Homo sapiens: one gene and its partners. The protein of the gene in region 1 interacts with the protein of each later gene in a pairwise test. Each region holds a gene or a part of one and is shown on either strand. Other genes may lie near its edges.

Region 1 (3,107 bases):
AGATTTATGTTAGCATTTTAAAAACTGTTTTTGATATATTCAAGTATATATGAAAATCTGTTTGGCATTAAGTGAATTTTAATGTTTTTGTTTTTATATCCTTTTAGCTCTTAAGTGTTGAACACTGTTGACAGTGAAGAACTTTTCTTAATGGTTTTCAGTATAACTAATAAGGATGTGAAGCTTTTTTCTCTTTAGTTCTGAGTATGCTAAACTGTGTGCTTATATAGACTATAACCAGTTGTGCCTTCCTTCGCATTTAATGTAAATGAATGATTTATATATTTTTTAGTATTAAGAGGAAATGTTTGAAAGATGAAAATTAGTATCAAACAGCTCTCTAGTAGAATTTCATTATTTTTCACCAGTGGGCAATATGAAAGCATATATCACGTTTTGTTTTACTTTCAATTGTATAAGAATTGCCTTAGAACCTCTTTTGAACTGAAATTCAGTAAATGTCCAAGTAATGTTTTTATAATAAACTAAGCCATATTTAGACAATAAACATTGATAAAAGAAAATGTTCTAAAGTACATTTTCAAAAGAATGGACCTTGAAAGGCTAGCCTCCTTAGCTGTTTACAGTATCTTATCTTTTAGATGCCTCCCAGACAAAAATCTGAGATGGAAAAGCTACATCAAGTTCATGCTATTCCAGGCCCAAGAATATCTCCTAGGTTAGCATATTCTTATTTCAAAAAATTAGCCCTGGTTTTCTCAGTTTTCCATAGGGAATCCCGACCATCTGATATATTTACTGTGTCAGTATAAGTAAGTTGGGGTTCCCCTGGAACTATAATTAACATTTAAAAAATCTAATGCTTTAGAAGAAGCTCACAGAGTGGTGATGAACCCAAACAACAAAGAAACCATTTTTAACACTAGGTATCTTCATCAGTATAGGTAGGTGTTCACAATTTTTGATGGATCAAAAACTTGCTGTAATACAAATAGAGAGTGGAGGTACTAAAGGCCTTGCTTGTGGAAACTGAGAGAGGATACACTGCTTTATGTATTACTAAAGTTAGGGGAGAATGAAGGAAATCTGACAGATGAAAAATTCTACAGGAACCTCATCATCGTGGAACTGAACTGATGATAACTTGGAACACTCCAGTAAATTCTGTTGTGTAATGTAATTTGGAGCAGTGATAATACAGACATATTTTCTGTTCCATCAGAAAATCAGCAGGCACCAGTCCAAAGGTACCACACCTGTACATGAAGAAGGAAAGTTCTAATACAAGAAAACTGAAAAGCACCAAGCTTTAAATTCAAGATTAATTACAATCCTTAACTATAAGTGATGATAAAAACTAACTTGAAATGTGACTAAATAACTGATCCAAACTGGGCATTAAGTGGCAGGATTATGAGAAAGGATAAAAAAAGAGATTTGAGAAAACACATTTCTTGAATTTTCAGAAAAAAATCTAGACTATTGCTTTGACACTTAGAAATTCTGAGGTTTTTCAATTGGAATTGAGCATCTCTGTATGTGGGGATGTGGGCCCTTATCAAGGGATAAAAATCCAAACACTCTAACATGCCTCCTTGACTGTAAAGTAATGACACTGGTTCCAAAATTCACAAATAATAGACACTACTGTCCCCCCACCCCCACCCCATAGGCTAAGAATAATTCTGTACCAGAATAAAAGGAGCTGGTCCAGGGAACTGATATTTACTGAACATACAAAGTTAGTGCTAGAAGGGGCCTTTGAGAATGCTTCCCGCCACCTGTTTCCAGCTCAAGACAGGTGCACAGCAGAAGCTGGGAGTTGCCTATGGCTGCACAGCTCACTGAAGGTAGAACAATGATTGGTGCTCAGTCCAATTCTGTCTCCCCCATGCCTAGCTGTTAAGTAATTACTGGTTCAAAACTACGTGTTATTAGTAAAACAAACAAAACAGATAAAGACAGCATTTAAAACTGTGTTGTCAGATAAGAGAACACATCCAAAATGCATGATTCTTACAAACTAAAGGAAGTTAATGTGCAAAAATCTCAACCAAAACTACTATTTTTAGTATACTTGTTTACGTAAATGCTGATTGGAAATATTTAAATGACTATAGATCTGATTCTTTCTTTTCCTTTGGAAACTGGGATTAATGTATGCTCTAGATCCATTTATTAGAAATGCAAAAATACTACAATTTTTTGATGGATGAAAATACTCCTGTAACACAAACAGAGAACTGGAGGAACTGAAGAATAACTCACTCATATAGCTCTGCCTCATTCTGTGTGTGTGTGCATGTGTGTGTTAGCAGAGGTATTTTACTCAGAAAATAGGTTTCAAAGAACATTAATGACTTTCTTTTCCCTTTTATGTCTGCTTAATCAGTGTTAAACTGCTATGGGAAAAGTTTTATAGAACTATATAACCTGAATGTTGGTCTCTTTGTACACATCTTTTCTATGACTGCAAATCTTCACTTTATGTATCATTTTTACTGTCATATTATTTTTGTTCAATAAAAACTTTGTGATAAAAGGTGTTTAGAGGTAACTGGATTGGCTTACTTCCATTTGCTTGGGGTGACCCAAACCACTTTTCCATATGGATACAAGTTGGAAAATGAGTCTTGTCACCTACCCTTAAAGACAGCACATCCAAAAAAAAAGTGCTTTACATACACATATTTTAAGAAATAAATGTAATTATTGAGGCTGACTTGTGGGAGAATGGAATGGATTGAAAAGCAGACCCCTGATCTTATTTAAGTTCTATCAACTGCTCTGTATTGAGGAGGAGGAGGAAGTGAGAAGGTAGGGGAAAATCAAATCTACCATTTATTCTTTTAGCCATTTTGTTGATTCAGGGGAATGTGAACTGCTAGGCTTGGTGATAAAGGTTATTATTTCTCTTGGTCTCAATACCAGGCTGACCTGGCTCTGGTTTTCATGGGTGATTCAAAGCAGTCTCCACTCAGGGTTTGATATAGGGAGACTGGTGTGAGGGGAGGGGAGGGGATGCAGGGAGAAAGCAGATTAATGCAGTCCCTAAACAACACATTCAGTATCACTAGCGTGCCAAAAGGCCACAGATAACTCACAGCTACATATAGTGTAACACAGGTGGCGGTAGGAAATCATTT
Region 2 (3,757 bases), on another chromosome or scaffold:
AGATTACTGTTTTGGAACTTACCTAATTCAACTGTTGAAGAATTTCTAACATTTAGAAAAGACGGCCAAACTATTTTCGGTTGATTTTCCAAAAATCAAGCTAAGGAAATACAGTATTATCCCTATCATCAGTTAACTATCTGTTTTCTGTGCTATAGAGAAAAAGAATACACGTAAATTATTACTGACTGAATTTATAACAAAGTACTTTCAAAGAAAATAAGTCCAATTAAGGTCCAGCCTGCAAACTACTAAGGTCTTTTTAAACATGTTAACACATGATATTAAGAGATGGGAAGATTCTGTATAAAGGTTATGTGATATATTTCCAAACAACTACAACTTATAGTATGGAGGAAATACTTTTCTGTTTCCAGTACATCAGTCTGCTTTTTGTATTTTTTAAAATTCAACACTTCACGTGTTGACCCCAAACCCTGGAATACTTAAAGAAGCCAAGAATGAAAACATAATTTCCTACTCTGTAATCCACTTGACCAGCCCATTTCCAGATTTTCAAAGGTGTGTAAACAAGTGCAGCACTAGAGGTCTCTGTTATAAATAACTTTTCAGAATTCTTCCATGTTGGTTGAAACATTGGGAGTTGCTGGATTCGAATCTTGAGAAATGGCTGCAACTGTGACAATTCTTGGGGAGCCAAGCACCTCTGTAACAGATGAGTCCAGTTCTCCCGAGGTAACAATGGCAAGAGCTGTCCCACCACCTTTTTTATTCTGGTGCGTTTTGACATGTTTGGAGAGATGATCACTCCGCATAAACCTTTTAGAACATTCCGGGCATTCAAATCTCTTTTCACCTACATAGAAAAACAGTAAATGGCGTTATACACATTTTGCTTAAGTGAAATTATAATTTTTAATAATCTCCCTTCTGGTCACATTATATGACTTTTTGTACAGTTTCACTAGTTGCAAAATGCTTTGTTTTATTTAAAAACGTTATCAAATACACAATGCAAAGAGAAAGACCATGTGATTGAGACGAAAAGACCTGAAGTTTAAGTCCTGCTTCTGCTATGAACTGGAAATAAAAGCTGGAGCAAGTAAATAGCCACTGGAACTCTCAGTTTTCCCATCTACAAAGCAAGAGGGTTTTTAGCAGACAATTTAAAATATCTCTATCAGATGTAACAAATATATATAATGTTCAAGGCTCATGTCCACTCTTCTTCAAAACTGCTAACCTGGGTTTTAGTTTTAATCTTGGAGGCATGAAATATCTTGGAACTATTTCAAATAAACTAAGTTAATAATTTAATAGCATACTGAGTTCTTTACAAGGCAAAAATGGGAGGCAGGCACATGCTACATTCAGAATTTAATAAAGTTTTTAGGTTTCATAAGATAACAGTTTCTGTTGTCCAAAGCAATTCTTAAATATGTTTTCTTCAAAATATAAGATAGTTTTACTGGACCGACTTCTTTGTTTTGGAATAAAAGCTAGTTTAATGTTAACTAAAAACAAAAAGGCCTTTTTGTTTTTGTGTATAATAAATGAGGCATATCAAAATTTGGTTAACTGGTTTATCCTGATGTGCACAATGAATAACTGTTAGCCGTAGATCTTCCCTCTAAAATTGTTACTTAAGGGACTGAAATGTTGTTTTCCCAGTCTGATAAAACTTGGGTAATAAGTGATAGGGTTTGGCTCTGTGTCCTCATCCAAATCTCATCTTGAATTGTGCTCCCATAATTCCCACATGTTGTGGGAGGGACCCAGTGGGAGATAACTGAATAATGGGGGTGGGTTCCCCATACTGTTCTTGAGAATAAGCCTCACAAGATACGATAGTTTTATCAGGGATTTCTGCTTTTGTGTCTTCCTTATTCTCTCTTTGCCTGCCACCATCCACACGAGATGTGATTTGCTCCTCTTTGCCCTCCACCATGATTGTGAGGCCTCCCCAGCCATGTGGAACTGTAAGTCCAATTAAACCTCTTTCTTTTGTAAATTGCCCAGTCTAGGTATGTCTTTATCAGCAGCATGAAAACAGACTAATATAATGAGAAAATTCAATTTGGATAATTTCTTTTCTTGGCCCTGCTTTTGACTTACCAATAAAAAAAATCTATAGGCTCAAGTTGGTCCACGTCAGATATTCTCTCTTTTTCTTTACATTCTCTTTTTCTTTACGTGTGTGCTTTTACTTTTGAGTAAACTTTGAAAAAACCATTAGTCTTCCTTATTATTGTTACAAACAAATATTAAAACTTACAGGAGCACTGCACTCAATACAATATTGTATTAAACATCCATCTGAAGTAACACAAAGAAGATGCACCTCCATGTCATACCACACACCAAGATACATGCTACAAAGATTTAAAACCAAGTATTAAAAAAAAAGGAAAATATTTCTATAACCTAGAGTTTGAAGGTACTTTAAAAAGTACAACAGGTTATTTAGAAACTATAAAAGAGAGAATAGACAAATCTGACTACACAAAAATAAAATACTTTGTATGACTTAAGATTCCATAAAGTTAAAGGAGAGAAAAAAAAGGTCAACAGAAGCATAAAAACAGTGTGATAAAATTTAACACATTTTGATAAGAGCTCTTGGCAAACCAGGAATAAAAATTTATTTCTTTTACCTGCTATACCCCTACATATAATTAATGGAGAAACTTCTGAACTATTACTTTATACATCAGGAACAAGATAAGAATGCTATTATATATATCATTACTATTTTCAACATAATATGAAACATTCTGACGAAGCCAACATATAAGACAGTAAAATGAACTGAGGTACAATCACTGGAAGAAAAAAATTGAAATAGATTATTATTTACAGTTATTACTATTTACATAAATAATCTGAGAAAATAAACAATTAGAATAAATTTGTCGTGGCCAGATTCACAATCAATCGATAATAAGCAACACCATCCATTAATTATATAAATCAACATGTAATGCAAATGTTGAGGCTACAGTGAGCCACTGCACTCTAGCCTGGATGACAGAGCACGGCCTTGTCTCAAAAAAAAAAAAAAAAAAAAAAAGTGTGTAGACAAGGCCCTGACCCCAGGTCAAACACAAACTCTATGCCAAGCCACAGTTGGCAAGCCTGGTCTTGGTATCTTATTCCAGGGTCTAGCTAGGTTCTGACAGGAGGAACCTGGGATTTCTCTGTACAAAGGTGGAGGCAGTGGCCTACTTAAAAAAACAAACAAACTGTATTTAGGCTGGGCGCGGTGGCTCACACCTGTAATCCCAGCACTTTAGGAGGCTGAGGTGGGTGGACCCTGAGGTCAGGAGTTTGAGACCAGCCTGGCCAACATGGTGAAACCCTGTCTCTACTAAAAATACAAAAAAAGTAGCTGGGCGTGGTGATGCACGCCTGTAATCCCAGCTACTTGGGAGGCTGAGGCAGGAGAATCGCTTGAACCAGGCGGGGTGGAGGTTGCAGTGAGATTTGGATGCTAGGAAATAAATTACCTGCTGTAACTGCCCCGGGTGTGCCTGCCTACCAGACACTCCATCTTGCAAGACCACCATTAAAAGTCTCGCTTCCATTGTTTGTGTCTCCAAGTCCATTCTTTGGGTTTGGACAGGTGAATCTGTGTTTCTCACAAACCTGGGGGCCTGTCTGGGATCTCTGTGCCTGCATGGAGTGGGACTCCAGCCGAGAGGGCAGAGGTGTCCCACCCGATTTGGGTGGCCCACTCTGTCCGGGCATCCTGGCTCCCCACAGAAGCCACAGACAAACCTGAGACTGTTATTCAGGA
Region 3 (3,757 bases), on another chromosome or scaffold:
CACCCTGTCTCTCTGTGCTTGGTTTCTCCATCTGTAAAATATAGATTATAGAACCCACAGAGAAAGTGTATTGTGAGGACTGGAAAAGGTGTAAATCACCTGGCGCAGTGGCTGGCTCAGTGAATGGCCTCACCCATCAAATGGCCTCCCTGCTTGATGGGTGCGGTCACAGGCCTGGCTTCTCCTGGAGACAACAGGGTGTGATGATGGATGGATGGTTGGAAAGATAGGACAATGGGAGAATGGCTTCCTTCCACCCTTTCTGCACTCTCCCTGACTTCCTGCTCCTCAATTCCCATGATAAACATTGGTGATTGGCCACCTGACAGGGTGAGTGATTCTTACCCATAAATGTTTGTGCAGATTTACTTCCAGTTGCACCTGCATCATCCATTCATCCACTGACCAATCCATCATCCAGTTATCCATCCTTCTACCTAATCACTTACTCTTCCATCCATGTACCCACATATCCACTACCCACCTTCCCATCAATCCAGTCAACTAATATGAAGTAGCCACTTTCTTTGTAAGGCTCTTAGCTGGCATACAGGATGCAGATATAATCCAGACACAGTTGTTGTCCTGAATACCTCATAGACTGGAGATAAGGAAAGGGCCCTGTGTGTGTGTCAGATCTGTTCCAGGGCAGAGGCTGGAAAAGACCTAGTGTGTGACTCAGAACCCACGTGGCTTAGGCTGCAAGACTCCCCTCCCATCTCCCTATCCTGGGTGGGAAGCTCTACCTCTGGGATGGGTACTGTTAGGTTAAAGATGGTTTCTGGGTTTGGAGCTAGAGGAGCTAATGTTTCCCCCTCCAATATTACTCCCTGGACAGCATAAAGGTCACTGACCCCCAGCTGCTGGAACTTGGCCTTGTGCAGAGCCCTGATGGCCACCGTCTCTATGTCACCATCCCTCTCGGCATAAAGCTCCAAGTGAATACGTGAGTGGGTCCCAAGAGGGGGTGAGAGGATGGCTCACCGAGGGAGACCCTGGTGACCATGGTTAACCATAACGGGGGTATTGGAGTCTAACAGACCTGAGCCTCCAACTTCAGCTCATTTGCTGCTATGCTAAGTGGCCTTGGGTCACTTGGGAAACTCACTTGACCTCTTAAGTCTTTGTTTCTCCTGCTAGAAAATGAGATAAGTACAACTGTGGGCAAGATGGAGTGAGGTGAGGCTAGCATTCTTGGCAAGGAGAAAATAACCCTCTTCCTTGGAATGTGGTGGAGCTAGATACCAGTGGGGCTGTCTCCTTTGCAGGCCCCTGGTCGGTGCAAGTCTGTTGAGGCTGGCTGTGAAGCTGGACATCACTGCAGAAATCTTAGCTGTGAGAGATAAGCAGGAGAGGATCCACCTGGTCCTTGGTGACTGCACCCATTCCCCTGGAAGCCTGCAAATTTCTCTGCTTGATGGGTGAGGCCAGAGGAGCAGCTTATCCTGCCCAGAGATGACAGGGTGTGATGCCGGATGGATGATTGGAAAGCTGAGACAATGAGAGAATAGATGAGTGAGAGGCTGAAAGGGTGGGAAAATGGATGGGAAGGAGGGAGCGTGGAAAGATGGATGGATGGATGGATGGATGGATGGATGGATGGATGGATGGATGGACAGATGGTTAGATGGTTGGGTTGATGGAGAGAAGGATGAATAGATAGATGGATGGATAGATAGATGATAGATAGATAGATAGATAGATAGATAGATAGATAGATAGATAAAGTAGTACTTATTCCTTCTTAGACCAAGCTAACCAATTTTATGCTGGATCTAGCAACAAGAAATTGGAGTTTAAGCCCTGCATATTACAGGGGAATGGGGATAGAGGGCTTCCTGTGTGAACCTGGGTAGTGCTTCTCCAATTTAGTTCTAAGCTTACTTATCTGCAATATGGAACTGCACTGGAGTTATTGATAGAACCTACCAAGATAACAGGTGTGAAAGTGCTTTGTCCCAGTAAGGGGTAAAATAGACGTGGATCCTAACTAGGTTATTTATTTCAGTTACCTGTCACATGGGGAGACTGTGTCAAACCTATTACGCAAAAGTTGCCCACGTGGTTAACTTTTAATGAACACATACATTGGGCTTCACATGTGTCATCTCATTGGATCATAATGACAACTACATACTAAGTAGTATCCATTCATTTATGGACTCTGCAAAGCCTTATTGGCACCTGCTTTTTCTGAGAACCATGTGTTTATCCTACACATACCTGTGTGTTCACTGCTGTACACAAATGTAACTCCCTTTACATAAGACCCTTGCTGTTGGCCTGCACGTGGGTGTAGATAGACAAGGCTCGGCTTTAGTGACTGAGTGTTGAGACTGTGGGGTTCACAGTGGCCCCCTCTGGAGACTTCTCCACACCATCTCCAGGTCCCTGCATCACCCATGACTTTTCTCTTTCAGACTTGGCCCCCTCCCCATTCAAGGTCTTCTGGACAGCCTCACAGGGATCTTGAATAAAGTCCTGCCTGAGTTGGTTCAGGGCAACGTAAGTAGGCAAGGTGGGGATCCCCTGATCCTCAGGTTTTAGAGCTTCTTGCACTAAAACAAAGCCCTGAGCTAAGTGGGTCCGAGTCCCTCAATTTGATAAGTAACTTCCATTCATCAATCTATTTGTCCATTGATCCATCTGTCCATGTTTCTTCTTTACATCTTTCCAAATGCATTGATGAGTCTCTGCTCTAGGCCAGGCCCTGCTTGTCCACACTGAAGCTGAAATGGATTGGCCCCTGTTCTGAGAAATTGGAGAAGTTCCCTGTCCAGCCTTCTATGGCCACAGACAGTCTTTCAACCTATGCTTGGGTGTCTCCTATAACCAGGGCACTCCACTCCACTTAGAATCAGATGTGATGTCACAGGGTGAACACTGGGCTTGTTGTGTGATTTGGGGCCCTTCACAACATCCCTCATGCCTCCAGTTTCTCCTCAGGCATGTGTGACCATTGATCTGTGGGATTGCTTAGAATCACTTTCACACAGAAAAATGACAGGAAATTTCCCCAGAGAACCCCCACTAGGGATTCTGCTGCTCCAGGGTGCCACTCTGCCTAACTCTCCTCTCTGCCCCTGGCCAGGTGTGCCCTCTGGTCAATGAGGTTCTCAGAGGCTTGGACATCACCCTGGTGCATGACATTGTTAGTAAGTACCTGCTTTCAAGCCCTCTGTCCCTCTCTGCAGGAGCAGCAACTTCCCCCAAGGAGTTTTTTCCCTGCACACCCTAGGATACTAGGTCCCTCTGGCCTCAACTCTCTCTATTTTGGGCTTCATTTTCCCCCGAATAATCCAGATAATTTTGAGATAGACACCGTGTCTCCTGCCTCAGCCCTGACACTGAGGACAGCTGGGCTGGTTGGTAGAAGGAGGCCTGGCTTCCTCCAAGCATGCTGAACACAGTCGGATCTCCAGAGGCCTCCATTCCCTGGCCCCCCACCTTGAGGAATATGGACTCCTTCACGTTGAGATCATAACTGTCGTCTGTTTTTTTATTGCTTGTTTGTTTGTTTAGACATGCTGATCCACGGACTACAGTTTGTCATCAAGGTCTAAGCCTTCCAGGAAGGGGCTGGCCTCTGCTGAGCTGGTAAGTGCCCTTCCCCACACCCCAGGGTTTTGGGGGCTGGCTGTTCTTCTCCTGGTAGAAGGCAGACGGGAGCTTGGGACAATGACATCCAAAGAAAGAGACAAACATCTACAGAGGTACACACAGGGATGCACAGAGAAATCCACAGAAAAGCTGACAG

What was found.
Region 2: the proteins of ELK3 (region 1) and SP4 interact in binary tests that used the Homo sapiens proteins (3 or more experiments, as listed by UniProt).
Region 3: the proteins of ELK3 (region 1) and BPIFA1 interact in binary tests that used the Homo sapiens proteins (3 or more experiments, as listed by UniProt).

The regions. Positions count from the first base shown.
Region 1 is NC_000012.12:96,267,318-96,270,424, forward strand, and holds the end of ELK3 (ETS domain-containing protein Elk-3), read left to right. Parts: 3' UTR 1-2,507; downstream 2,508-3,107. UniProt on the Homo sapiens protein: May be a negative regulator of transcription, but can activate transcription when coexpressed with Ras, Src or Mos. Forms a ternary complex with the serum response factor and the ETS and SRF motifs of the Fos serum response element.
Region 2 is NC_000007.14:21,508,082-21,511,838, reverse strand, and holds part of SP4 (transcription factor Sp4), read right to left. Parts: intron 818-3,757; coding exon 570-817; 3' UTR 1-569. UniProt on the Homo sapiens protein: Binds to GT and GC boxes promoters elements. Probable transcriptional activator.
Region 3 is NC_000020.11:33,238,965-33,242,721, forward strand, and holds part of BPIFA1 (BPI fold-containing family A member 1 precursor), read left to right. Parts: intron 1-838; coding exon 839-946; intron 947-1,268; coding exon 1,269-1,421; intron 1,422-2,420; coding exon 2,421-2,505; intron 2,506-3,091; coding exon 3,092-3,155; intron 3,156-3,522; coding exon 3,523-3,563; 3' UTR 3,564-3,597; exon of another isoform or gene 3,598-3,705; intron 3,706-3,757.